Linked DNA regions of Homo sapiens. The protein of the gene in region 1 purifies or fractionates together with the protein of each later gene. This does not show direct contact. Each region holds a gene or a part of one and is shown in the gene's direction. Other genes may lie near its edges.

What was found. Proteins that work in one complex are often made in the same cells at the same time.
Region 2: the proteins of VPS50 (region 1) and VPS54 purify together in Homo sapiens (affinity purification with mass spectrometry; 3 studies listed by BioGRID and IntAct, with this or other methods). This does not show direct contact.

The regions. Positions count from the first base shown.
Region 1 is NC_000007.14:93,354,343-93,361,377, forward strand, and holds the end of VPS50 (syndetin), read left to right. Parts: intron 1-1,548; coding exon 1,549-1,738; intron 1,739-3,974; coding exon 3,975-4,094; 3' UTR 4,095-6,781; downstream 6,782-7,035.
Region 2 is NC_000002.12:63,911,414-63,918,448, reverse strand, and holds part of VPS54 (vacuolar protein sorting-associated protein 54), read left to right. Parts: intron 1-1,485; coding exon 1,486-1,549; intron 1,550-4,161; coding exon 4,162-4,267; intron 4,268-4,523; exon of another isoform or gene 4,524-4,624; intron 4,625-5,138; coding exon 5,139-5,226; intron 5,227-5,787; coding exon 5,788-5,909; intron 5,910-6,023; coding exon 6,024-6,104; intron 6,105-7,035. UniProt on the Homo sapiens protein: Acts as a component of the GARP complex that is involved in retrograde transport from early and late endosomes to the trans-Golgi network (TGN).

The DNA.
Region 1 (7,035 bases):
GAGTGCAGTGGTGCAATCTGGGCTCACTGCAGCCTCTCCCTCCTGGGCTCAAGCAATTCTTGTGCCTCAGCCTCCTGAGCAGCTGAAACTACAGGTGTGTGCCACCATGCCCACTAATTTTTTGTATTTTTAGTAGAGATGGGGTTTCACCATGTTGGCCAAGCTGTTCTTGATCTCCTGGCCTCAAGTTGATCCGCCCACCTAAGCCTCCCAAAGTACTGGGATTACAGGCGTGAGCCACCATGCCTGGTTATACTCCTGATTTCTGGTGGTAAAATCAGCCCTCGTAACCCTTATATCATCATTAATAATAATCACCATCATATCACTGTAAACTCTATAAATCTTTCATGTGTTGAAGTTATGGATCTATTAATAGTAATTTTCCCACTTACTCAGAGACCATGCTTACTCTGCCCATAACATCTAGGATACAAATAAGGATCAGTAATACATCTGAAATATCCCTGAGAAGCGAACAGCTATTTCAAAGACCCTGTACAGTGCTCTAGAATTGCACATCAGTTGAATATTCACACTATCATTTGTCTGATTTTTCTTTTGTTCTCATTTGTTATACAAAATAATGTATTAGAAAGTGGGAAGATGACAGTGACAAGCTGACAACAGTCGTGGCACTCTGTATTGAAACCAGCAGTGCTATAAATTATAAAAAGGCTGTGTCAGCAATCACGAATGAAGAGTATTTTAAATAAATTTGTTTAAGTCGAAATGTGAATAATATATGTAATACTTCTGTATAAAATACTCTTTTTTAAAAAAAAAAAAAAAAGCTTGGTCATTTTAAATAAAATAAGCTTTTATTTTCTTGCAACTTTCCTTAAGGTAAGTACCTCATTCCCACAGTTGAATTTTCCATGTTCTGTATGATTGATTGAAGAAATGAAACATTGACTTAATGAGCAATAAAGTGTTGTATTGTTAGGGTTTGTATATTTGTCTTTATTACTTAGTCCACCTTAAAACACACTGTTTCAGTAGTGTAGAATATCAGAATAGGTCTATAAGCTTTTTATCATGAAAAATATATATATACTTTCTATGCTTACATGCTTACACATTTCTTTATGTTTTCAGAGTGTTCATGGGAGAATTATTTCATTTGTTTCTTTTGCATTGCATTGAATATTGAACAGTTTTATAAAACTAAGATTACTTTGAAGTATTCAAAGCTTAGTTTTTATAAAGTAACTCTTGGCAGCCAGATTAACTGGAATACCAGTTTAACTTTCTTACAGACAATTATGTTGATTGAATACAGAGATCCGTGGTCTGTAGAACAACAAAGAGACTTGAACTCATTGGATCTCTTTGCAAATGAGAAAACTGAGGCCCGCATAGGTAAAATGACAGAGCACAAACACAACCCAGTCTTTCTGACTCAAGGCTTATGTTCTCTATTTCCTATAACCCTCTCATTTCTGGGGAATCTGTCCAAATATAGGTTAGAGAAAACTTCAAATACCTGACAGTTTTTTGTTTCTAATTATCCTATAATGTATTTTTTTTTATTGTTTTGCATCTTAGATATGCCAATGTCAAGAAATGCAGTAATGAGGGTCGTGCCCTGATGCAATTGGATTTTCAACAGTTTTTAATGAAACTTGAAAAACTAACAGATATTAGACCCATTCCTGATAAAGAATTTGTAGAAACTTATATTAAAGCTTATTACCTAACTGAGAATGACATGGAACGGTGGATCAAAGAGCACAGGGTGAGAGCTGGAAAATAGTTAATTAAGTTTTTATTCCTTTTTCTTTGTGCTGTTCTTGTTGGGTGTGTTATTTAATTCAAAATCATGAGAGTGAAATATAAAGAAACATTTGCTTTTTTAATACAAACTACTTAGGTCAATTCTTTGCCTTATTCAGATTAAGGGCACCGTATCTAAGCAGTGCCCTTTGACTCATCAAATCTTTTTCAGCCCTTTGTGAACTGTTACTGTAATGATCTAGAAATACAGCCAAAGCCAAGACATTAGCTATATTTTTCCTGCAACTGTGTTATAGGAAAAGGCTGAAGTTGATAAATACTGAGACAGATTGAATACAGAAACAATGAAATGATTCATAAGCCATAATCGATTATGTAACTTAAACCTTCTCATACAAACCTTCTCGTACTCCTCAACGATGAAATGGTAACATCCTACACACTGACACGTATTAGTGATGAGTGAAGACATTAATATTTAAATGGCTAAACTTAACTTACATCTTACATTAGATTTTACCTTTAATATAGATTTGATTATTTTTCTTTTGTATGACTATATAGATAACGAAAAATACTATTGTTACGTAGGATGCCGAATTTTTGACACAGTTCAACTCAGTGAGCTTGGTATGGGAAGCTTTTCTGTATATGGCATGTGTTAAAATTATCACCAAATCCTCATTGCTTTGATAACTCTAGGATTTACATTTTCTTAACCTATGAATGTCATGGGTAAAAGCTAAGTCAAGTTTTATTTCATTTGGGTAAGAAAATAATTATTTGTATATACCTGCTCAGACTCATCCTTTCTGGCCTTAACACTGTAAAGAGATAAAATGCATTAGCCTAGAACATTCACATTGGCGTGAATCTTGTGTGAATGTCCCCACTCTTACTCAGTTTCGGATCTTTAGAAGCAAAGTAGGAATGTATGTGTTATTTTTAATGAGTTCGACCAGTAAAGCCAGATTGAGAAAAACTTCACCACGTTTAGCCCCACTGACATTTGATAACCAAAATGTTAAACCTAGATGCAGATAGACTGCTTAATGTTGCTAGAATCCATTTAGTAAAGTAAGCTGTAAACACTTCTGGGTTGGTACTGAGGAAAGGGTTTTGGGAAAGAATACAAAGTAGCCAAGGAGGAAAGGCACAGCTCTATTCGATGCAAGAATGATGCCCGTTTTTTGAATTTCCTCTTTTAATATAGTAGACTGATTTTTTTTTAACTTAGTACTTTGAAAGAGCTTTAACTGATTGATATTTGTAATTCAGTGACATTTCCCCAGCAGCAGCAGGGACTCTTTTCTGTCTTTGAAGGAAACTTCCCACAATGATGAGTCCAGCGATCACTGACGATGGATCCTCACTGAATGCTGAGTGGTTAAATGAGATTACTTACCAGGCGGGGACAGGTGCTCTCAGAGATCAGATACACAAGCTGAGCAGTTTGCCAAGTTTTTAAAATCAATTCTTTCTCCTATTTTGAAATTGTACTATATTTAGTGGTTACCTTCAATAAAGACACATTTTCTTTTCTTATTAGATAATAGTACACAGCTGTCTTTCCCTATCTGAACTCTTGCTATTCAACCTCCAGTACCAAGTCAATCTGCAGAAATTTCTGATGAATCCCTGTTTATTCTCATCCTAGCAATTCAGTATCTAAAATTCAGGAACCAGATGGATTTGGATTGCGAAAGATACTCGTAGTCTTAATTTTATTTGCAGCTCCCTGACTTTGTGATCCTTGTTACCTTATTCATTTGTTGTATCTTAGAAGAGTTGTTCTTCTGTTGTTGGAGATTTTTTTTTTAACTAAAGTGTTTACAAAATGTAGAGGGCCAGAAAAATACTTCATCAGTAGCATTTAAAAAATTTGAAATGTCAGTGTATTTTGATGACTCAATAACAAAGACTATTACAGAAACAAGTGTAAAGTGTGTGATCATCAAAGCAGTAAGAAGCATACGCATGTCAGATTGCTTTGCCATATTAAAACAGATTCTAGTGCTTACTGTTTCAAATGTGTACTATAGTATTCTTATTCTCTCCTATTACAGCTCAGTAAACAATTTGCCTTCCATGTCCCAACTGTAATTTCCACTGTTTTTCACTGGTTTATAATGCTCAGTAACTATCCACTGCACCTGAATATCCGCCTGTTCTTTTGTTGCACTGATCAGATACATTCCTTTTAGGGTACTAAATTTGGATCTTTCTTCTTTGAGCAGGAATATTCAACGAAGCAGCTGACCAATCTGGTGAATGTTTGCCTGGGATCCCATATCAATAAGAAAGCAAGACAAAAACTTCTAGCAGCTATAGATGATATAGACAGACCTAAAAGATAATGAACACAGCTCTCTTTCCTCAATGGCATTGATCCTCACTCAACATATATGACCTGAAAGCCAGTTTTTTTATGCACTTCTGACAACTATCTGCTAAGAAAACTTTGTGCATGTTTTTTTGACTGGAAAGTGGAAAATATTGAAATGTGTGTGGTGTTCTCATGACTTTTATATGCTGTGGTCTCTTCAACTTTTGGTCTCATTTGTTGTAATCTGAAATGATGTTGCCGCCTTGTCATAACAATGGTTATGTGACTACAGTTATACATTTTACAGAAGAATGTACCATAAGTATATAATTAGAAGAACAGTGGCTTAATATATGTATGGGAAGTTTATGGAAAATGAAGTTGGCACTTTTCTACCCTCTGAGCTTGGTTCTTAATAAGCATAATGTGAGGGTGAATATGTAGTATCTCCTAATTATGAGCACTGCATGAGAATTAAAAAACACATGTAAGTAAAATAGTTGAAAAATCAGTATGTTCTCTGTTTTTAAAATGTCAAAGTTTATGTCAGGGTTAATTTAGTTATAACAAAGTGATCATAATGGTGAAATTTAATAAATATACTCTAGTATGATCAGCCTATGTGAGACTACATTTTGATTTTTTGTGTGGCATGCAGATGTCATGAACTATAGTGCAGCTTTTAGTGTGTTCTAATTTTAATTGTTTTATATCCTGAAACCAATGGTGAAAAGTAATTTCATTGAGGGTACCTTTTCAATGCCTGAGTAGCATACAGAATCATGATTATGAGACTTTCTTTTATCTTTCTTTATAAAAATATGTGGTTTTTTTGTTGAAAGTTTTGGTCTCTTTAAATTCAGATTTTGTCTTAGGACAGTAAAACCCAGGTTGACTGACTCAGGAAACAGTTGTCTGCTAGTCACTCATAAATGTACGGTCATATGTTCACTCTTCTTAAATATCCACCTTTTATAACACAAATGTAAAATAGTATCAGTCTAGCCAATGATGAACTCTGGAATCCACTTAGTCTTCAGTAAGTATGTGCTGTTCCTCTAAACTTTGCCCTGAAGCCAGGGATCTTCTCCTAATGTATGTGACATAAAAATCCATTTTCCATGTACTCTTGCCAACTGTCTGATAAGGAATTTTGTGTGTGTTCTTTCTGACTGGAGAGTGGAGGACATCTAAGCTTGTGTGGCATTGGTCCAATGATTGCCATGCATGACCTGTAACATCAACAGCTCACAGAATCCTAAGGAATCATGTGAGAAACAGGCCTTGGGTCTTATGAGTCTTCTGGGACCTAAGGTGATAAAATGGATGGCACAGAATGGCATGTGATCAAGCATGGAGGTGATAAGGAAACAATTGCTACTCTGTGTCCATCAGTCCCTGCGATGTCTGTAAATGCACAGTGTAATGTGAAGCACTTTCAGAATATGTTTGTGTGTGTCTGTATGCTGAGTGTTTTCTTTTCATCCTCTCATGTCGGAGTTCATTTACTGTCAATTTAAAACTTTCCTCTTGTAAAAAGGTATGAGTTTGGTGCCATTATGATTTGGTTGTGGCTAGATTATATACTTGTGAAGTAGATTCTGCCTGTAGCCATTATTTATATGCAGCCACTTGAAGAAAACAAACATGAGATAAGCTTGGTCCTTGAGTTTAAATGGCATATTTAGCTGGGCACATAAAGAGCTAATCAATCTTTTAAAATTTGCAGTTGATGAAGAGCTGCTTATTTTTCTCTTCTACATGGATTTTATAGTTGGTTTCCTTTAATTTCTACTTTAGTTGGCCCTAGATAATATGAACAGGAATCACCTGCCTGGTAGAGCCCAGTGTTTTCCAAGGTAATAGGAATTGATACAAAAGAATTACTTATCTTGTTAGAGACTCGACCATGCAATCTGACAGACCTTTTAACCTACCCTTACTTTGCTTTCTCCATCTTCAAAATGAAATGGTGGATCTTTTTAATGCTTTTTGAAAAAGGTTTTTTTTTTTTTTTTTTTTCATTAAAAGGTAGCTTAATAAGTGCTAGCTAGCATCAAAACAGTAACAGGAGGTTTGAGTCATGAAGTTACCTAATCACAAGAGAGTTACCAGACATTTCTCAAATACTTTATACAGTAATATTGAGTTATAACCATGTAACATTTTATGAAACTAATTTTCAGATAAATACAATTGAAAAGCTGAGAATGTAAATGGAATTATACGTGTTCCAAAAACTATCATTACCAAAAATTTATTATTTTTGAGTCTAAACTTTCCTTAACTTTGACATTTTCCATGAAAGTTTCCTGTAGAATTTACCATGGGAGCATGGTAAATTAGCATTCCCTGAGAAAGAATGATCATTTCTACAAATACATTGTCTTGCATTTAAAAATGCTAGGGGGGCACATAGCAATTCAAATGAACTAGTTTGCTTTGGTTTATAAAACCAACAGAGATTTTGTAAGTTCACTTTAACTAATAAACTCATTTACACAACTTATTAAATGAATTTCTCTTGAAACCAGGGCCATATGGTATTTTATCATATCTTTAAATAAAATTTCGAAATTTCTATTTAGCTGAGTGCTAAAGTGAAACTTTGTTAGATTAAATAGCTTTTTCTTAACTCACCAAAAAGTAGTAAAAGGCTTGTAATTCAATTCACCTTGTAAGCATAGTTGTCTTTTGTAATAAAAAACTAGATCTGAAGATGAATTGATGAATACAAGTTGTGCTCAAAGCACATAGAAGTACAGGGTGGGGGGGATTTCCATATATATACATATATATATATTATATATATATTTCTTTTTGGAATAATTTTGATTCGGATTAGTGGTTAACAAAATGATATTTAGCTTCTGACAATGATTAATGATGAGAATTATTAATAGTCTGGTATAATCTTTGTAAATGTTAAGACTGGTGCAGCTTTCTACAGATTTTTTCTTATTGTGGAAAAT
Region 2 (7,035 bases), on another chromosome or scaffold:
CTTATCACTCATCTAGTCTTTCAAGCTATATTTAATTGACTTCCCTCTATGTGAGGTGCTGTGCTAGATGACTAGGATATGTTTTCTGTCCCTGAACAGCTCATGGTCTTTTGATTCCACTGTTAAGCAAACAGAATGATTTCTGAATTAAAATCATAAATGTGGAATAATTGAATTACTCATGTGTTTTGTTTGAAACATGAACTACTTATTTTCACTTCTTTGGAGGATATTGATGGTAGGAGGTTTCTTTTACATACCTTGCTTCATCTCAGTCTTTGTTTTCCTCTCTGAATAGCATAGGTGTATGCTATTAGAAGTCCATTAACATTTTACTAGTTCTTTTCAAGTTAAGGATCCTGGATTATTACCCATTTATCCATGATAAATTAATTGGGTTACTATCCACTCAGCTAGGCATTGGGGAAATGAAGATTAATGGATAGCAGCTAATATTAATTGAGTGTTTACTTACACTGTTTTGTTCTAAGTATTTTACATGTGTTATCTCATTTACAGGTCCATGAGCTAGATATTATTAGTATTCCTATTTTACAAATTTAGAAACTAAGGCACAAAGAGGTTAAGCAACTTGTCTAAGGTTACATAGCTAGGAAGTGGTAGAGCTGGGATTCCAATCCAGGCAGACTGACTTTAGGGCCATTTCTCTTTTCTACGATGCTATGCCACTTCTCTGTAATATAGAGAAGTGATGAAGACACAGTCCTTAACCTCAAAAAATATACTTCTGACATACATAGTAAATTGTGATTGCAATATATATAGCTCTCAAATAGTCAAATATATTTACAAATCCTAAAGGGATTTGAAGCTTAGGGAAGCATAATGAGCTGCCCATGGTAATCTAATCAATTTGGCGTGTCCAGGATAAAATCCAGTCCACTGTTCTTTTCACCTCAATATGCTGAATTTTGTTTAAAGAAATATCACATGCTGAAAATAAAGTAACGTCTGGGTTGAAGTATTAAAAATTAAATATATAATCTTTCCATCAAATTTAGAAATTAACTTGTATTCTATAATGATAATAGTAAAGACAACCAATTTAAATGCTAGTTCTGCCTTTCCAAAACTAATAACTTTTTAAAAAACTATTTGCTGATCATTTACCTTGTGCCAGCCCTAAGGGATAGGCAGTTTGTGATAATTATTTCTACCATTAACAACAACCCTGAAAGATATTGTTGTTCACATTTAATAGATACAGATAGTGATACTCAAAGAGGTTAAATAATTGCCCCAAAGTCATGTATCCAGTAATTGGTAGTACTGGTACTCAAATCCAAATCTCTCCAACTTCCAGTATACTTTATTTACTGTGTGCCAAATAGTTTCCCAGGAAGTAGATGTTTATTTTCAGAAATGAGAGTTTTTGGCCTTAAACAGGAATTATCTTCTTCAGCTTTTTCTCTATTTTGTTTCGTCTGGTACTCTTGTCTCTCGTTTATTTGCTTAACTCTGTAGCCACAGAAGAAAGGAAACCAGCTGAAGTTCTTATTGTCGAGGGACAACAGTATGCAGTTGTTGGGTGAGTGACACATTTTTCTTTAGTAGTTGAGTCAACTATTTAAAACACAAGTCTTCTAGTTCTCCCTTGAAGTGAATTGGAAATTTTGGATTAACAGTTTTAACAGTGTTAAATTTGGATTAACTGTTTTAAATCCTGCAAAGAACTTAAAGGAAACTTTATGGATTTCTTTATCTTCTCTCTTCTGTAGCATACATTATTAAGGACTGCACTGGCTTAACACAAAAAGCTTGATTTTTCTCATATAACAAGAAATCTAGACAACCCAAGAGTAATTGTAGTGGATCCATGATATTATTGCTATCCCAGGCTCTTTCTATCTTTTCTTCTGTTGCTTTCTTAGAATGTATTATAGCATAATAGTTTAAGTTGTGAACTCTGGAACCCACACAATGTGGAAAATAGTACTATACACAGAATTATTGCGAAAATTAAGTAATTCATGTAAAGCATTTAGCACAGGTCTAGCACCTAATAAGTTGATAGTTGTTGGTAGTTATTCTCATTGGCATCATTTGATTCACTAGATCTTTTACCAATAAAAGTATCTCAAATTCAAGTTAACTAAGAAGCATACAAATTCCATCTTTTTTTGTCTAGTACTATGTCTTTTATTAAATTGGTAATTAAAATATATCTTCATATGCTTTAACAGTACTTCACAGCTTAAGTGTTTTCATATATATGTGATCTCATTTGATCTTTACAACTACATTGTAAAATAAAGATATTGGGGATTATTCTTTCCTTTTTCCACTATGAGAATTGAAGCTTAGAAGATTAAGTGGTTCAAGTGACCCAAATGGAGCCAGAATTCAAATCTAGGTCTAACTGCCAATATCTAGCCCAGCATTCTTTTTCACTTTTCTTCTTGTCAAGTGTTTTTTGAAATGACCACCACCTCCAGGAAGAATGTAATTCTATGTTCCTCAATCATGGCACTTACCGTAGTATAATAGAATTGTTTATTTATGTATATGTCTTCTAATTTGACTCTGAATTCCTCAAAGGTAGAGATGAGGTCTTACCGTTTTTATTTTTCTTGGCACCATAATAAGCACTCAAAAAGTATGTATAGAATTAATCCTTTTTCTGTATCTGTATTCAAATACCTGAAGTCCACACATTCTAAACTAAAGCCTCCATTCTTTTCTCTTCTGAAGTCCTTCCCTGTTTCTGGTAGGGAAAGCTTTCTTCAGTCTTCCTGTAATCCCATCCCTTCAATATAATTATGATTTCCCTCCTTAACTACTGGTTATCTGGTCACTCTTCACTTGCTTGATGGATATGGTCCCCTCTGGCCATCTTGCTTTTGGCTCTTTAGGCAGAGAGTCTGTTGCCAAAAAACTAAATTCCCTGGCTAAAGGGGAACTATTACAACTTCTGAGAGACAATTACAAAAGATAAGCAATGGACTCATGCTCATTTAGGCAGACTCTAGGAGAAATAAGCATAGAGACCAGTATGCATATATGGTCTGACAAGGTGTTATAAAGGCTAGACACCATCTTTCTTGAATCATTAGTTCCTGATATCTTTCAGGCTCTTATAAATCCTTATTTTACGTAGATCTTATTTCTGAGCATGTCATTGAACTTAGATATCCTATGATGAATGGCTTTCTCCTTAATTTCAATCTTCTTTAACTTCCCAGTAGTGTGTCTTTTTAACGTGTGATTTGTCCTTCTATGGAGGTGATAACTTTATCATCTTCGGAAAACTTTTTTTTTTTTTTTTTTTTTTTTTTTGAGACGGAGCTTTGCTCTTGTTGCCCAGGCTGGAGTGCCATGGCATGATCTCAGCTCACCACAACCTCCGGCTCCCAGGTTCAAACGATTCTCCTGCCTCAGCCTCCCCAGTAGCTGGGATTACAGATGTGCAGCACCACGCCCAGCTAATTTTGAATTTTTAATAGAGACAGGGTTTCTCCACTGTCAGGCTGGTCTTCTCCATTGTCAGGCTGGTCTCGAACTCCCGACCTCCAGTGATCTGCCTGCCTTGACCTCCCAAAGTGCTGGGATTACAGGTGTGAGCCACCGCGCCCAGCCAGAGAACCTTTTGTGACCTACCAATAAAATTCTTAGGAGACATGTTTTCCTTAGAAGCCATTATAGATTTTTTTTTTTTCCATCTCACTAAGAAAATCTGGACTAGGTTTTCTTCATCAATTCATTAGTTATGATGGAGGACCTACTATGTTGGTAATCAGAAACACTGGATAGGCTTTTTGTCAGTGTTTCTGAATTGGCTAATGAATGCAATACCTGTCTTACTGAAGCGACTCCCTTACTTAATAAGAATGCCATACAGAGAGTATTATGCCTGTTGTACAGAATTTAAGGAGCCACTCATTCTCAGTGTTGTGCAAGCTGATCCTGCAATTGCACAGAGTAAGAGCCTCTTTAAATTTTGCATTCTAGACACCTCTCTTGTCTTGTGTTAGTCAAGAACCTGCTGTACTAGTAGGTAAAATGCATACTTTAACATAGTTACCAAGGTCATTATATTCTCAGAGATCCTTTGTGCCATTAAGTAATTTGATTTTTATATGCCAAATCCTTTTGATTTTTCTTGTTTTGATTTCCTATTGGGCCATTTTTCTTTTCTTGTAGAACCGTATTGCTGTTAATAAGAATTATCCTTGAATATTGCCAGTGTGTGGATAACATCCCATCTGTTACTACTGACATGCTTACTCGTCTGTCAGATTTATTGAAGGTATGTATGACTTCACTCCATTATGGAAAAATTTTTCGAGGAATTAATACATTAGGGTGTGACTAATCTTAACTCAAAGACATTTCAAGGTCAAATTAACTTTAAGACATTAGTTTTATAACATTTGATTGTGGTTGAATCACAACATGTTATTGGAAACAGGCTGCCTGCTTCCTTCTTACTCCACAGTTAGTGATCCTCATTCACCCATAGAGTTGTTAATGACATTGGAGACAGGAGATGATTTGTTCGTTAGGTGCTGAACATGACTGAGGCCACTTAGGTCAAAAAACCTGGACTGGCTTCAAATGTGCATGGAAGGAATTCACTGAACTTTACAAAATTCATCTCACTAAGGTTAGAGATTTTTCTTGCATCATTCTTTCAGAACCATTGATATAAAATGAAAATGTGATGATTTTATTCAGCCATTTCATATTGAGATATTTTAAACTACCAGTACGGAGGAAATGCTTTATTATTTTTTTCAAACCTCTAATCTGTTAATTATGTTCTGACTTGAGTTGTCATGTTTTAGCCAAGACAGATTTTTATAACTTTTGAAAATAGGACTTCCCAACAAGAATGACTGAAACCGAATTTGTTTTGTACATGCAAATTAAAGATTAATTTCTGCGAACTGATTTTTAGAATTTTTCAACTTTTTTCTTATCAGTAAATATTATCATTTAGAATCTCCCCTTCTCATTTCTTTTTCATTAAATAAATAGATACTAATTGCTTCTACTAGATAATTCATTTGGCCATTGAATGAGAGGAAAGGGGAATGTATTTTTATAATAGCACATTGCCAGGATATAAAGAACAGTTTTTAGTAAATTTTGGGGTTTTTTTCTCCTTCTTTTGTTAGTACTTCAATTCAAGAAGTTGCCAGTTAGTTCTTGGAGCTGGTGCACTGCAAGTTGTTGGACTAAAAACGATAACTACAAAAAATTTGGGTATGGATTCTTGCGTTTAATTCACTTGCTGAAGTGTTAACAGTGATGTCACTGTTCTCATCATGTTTTTTTATACCTCATGTTTTCATGGCTCTAACCAAAGTGGCATTACTCTAAAAATAAATGCTACTTACTCTTTTATGTATACTCATCACTGAAAAAAACTAACCATGGGGAAAAGGTTACGATGCATTTCCCCTCCAAGTATAAGTTACTTGGAAGTTACACCACTCTAGAAAATATTAAGATATAATGTGTATAAAGTATTTGGGGGTGAAAGCTATCTGAATGTCATAAGAGAATCAGTTGTCTTGTTATTGTGATACTGATAATACTCACAACTTGAGTCCTTTGTGAAAGCAGCATGTTCATTACATTATTCAGTATCAAATTATTAGACAAAATGAAATATGTTGCCTTCTGCCATAGGGCTCTTCGTTTATGAAATAAACTGGTTCTTTATAAGTGATGTTTTTTATTTGATTTGATTTGTAATTAAAATCAACTAATACCTTTTTTTTTTTTATTTCTCCATTATATATCTACTCCCTGGATCTTCAGCTCTTTCTTCACGATGTTTGCAGTTAATTGTGCACTACATTCCTGTGATCCGGGCTCATTTTGAAGCTCGACTACCACCTAAGCAATATAGCATGCTTAGGCATTTTGATCATATCACTAAGGTACTTTTTCATATATTTTCTATTGGCGTTTCATAAGTTTAGATCCTTAATTGTTAAGTATTTTAAAAATGTGTCCCAGGGACTTAAAAATACAATTATCATTTCTCATTGCAGGACTACCATGATCACATAGCTGAAATATCAGCTAAGCTTGTAGCGATAATGGATAGCTTATTTGACAAGCTGTTATCTAAGGTAATGATTTATAGAAATTATTAGACTTTGTTCAAAGACATTATGATTTTCTATTTTATAAGGAGTACTTTATAAATTAAGATGTGAAAAGATAATCTAAACTTTCATAGGATATTTACCAATTAGTAGAATTTTAAATTTTTTTTCAGGAAAATGTGACCATGTGCTGTGACCAAGACCCCCCATAGTGGTCTAACCTGCAGTTATCTAACAAATTATTCAGGGTTTAGAAAACAACTCAACAAAATTTTCGGATTTCCAAAACAGTTGATATTCTAAGGGGCTGGCAGGAGTAGGAGAGATGATTCTAAGGATGGTAGAAATCCTATGCAGAAGTATTTTTATGTTAATTCATTTCAACATTCATTTCTTGTTTGTTTTTCATTCCCAATATGTCATTAAATGAAGCAGTGTTCCCCAAAGAATTCGCAGTTATACTGGGAGAGTATCTTCAGAAAAATATCATTTAGTCAGCCCCAATCACGCTTGATCTATCTTTCACTGTTTACTTTCCCTAAGTTTTTCAATTCACGTCTTAGTGGGAAAGCCAAAATTTCGTAACTTGAAAGTCTGAAAGTTTACTCAGTGTATACTGTCTGTCCAAGATCATATTTGGAATAACCTTAATAGCAAAGAACTTTGATTTGCTTTTTATCCTACTTGCATCCTTCAGATTCCGAAATGGCAGGAACAGCAGGTACATAAGAATCAAAAGGGCAAGATAAAGTGGTGTCCATTCACTCACACACAAGACTACCCAAACACATATTCTATTAGCCTTCAGAATAATGATATCACAAGTCATCTAAAAATCCCCACTGTTCAATCATGAGAGAATGAGAGTAAAATAGATAAATAGCATCTTATTAATAATATTATTATGAAAGCGGCTTTTACTTCCCAGATTCCTGGAAAGGGTCTCTGACTTCTG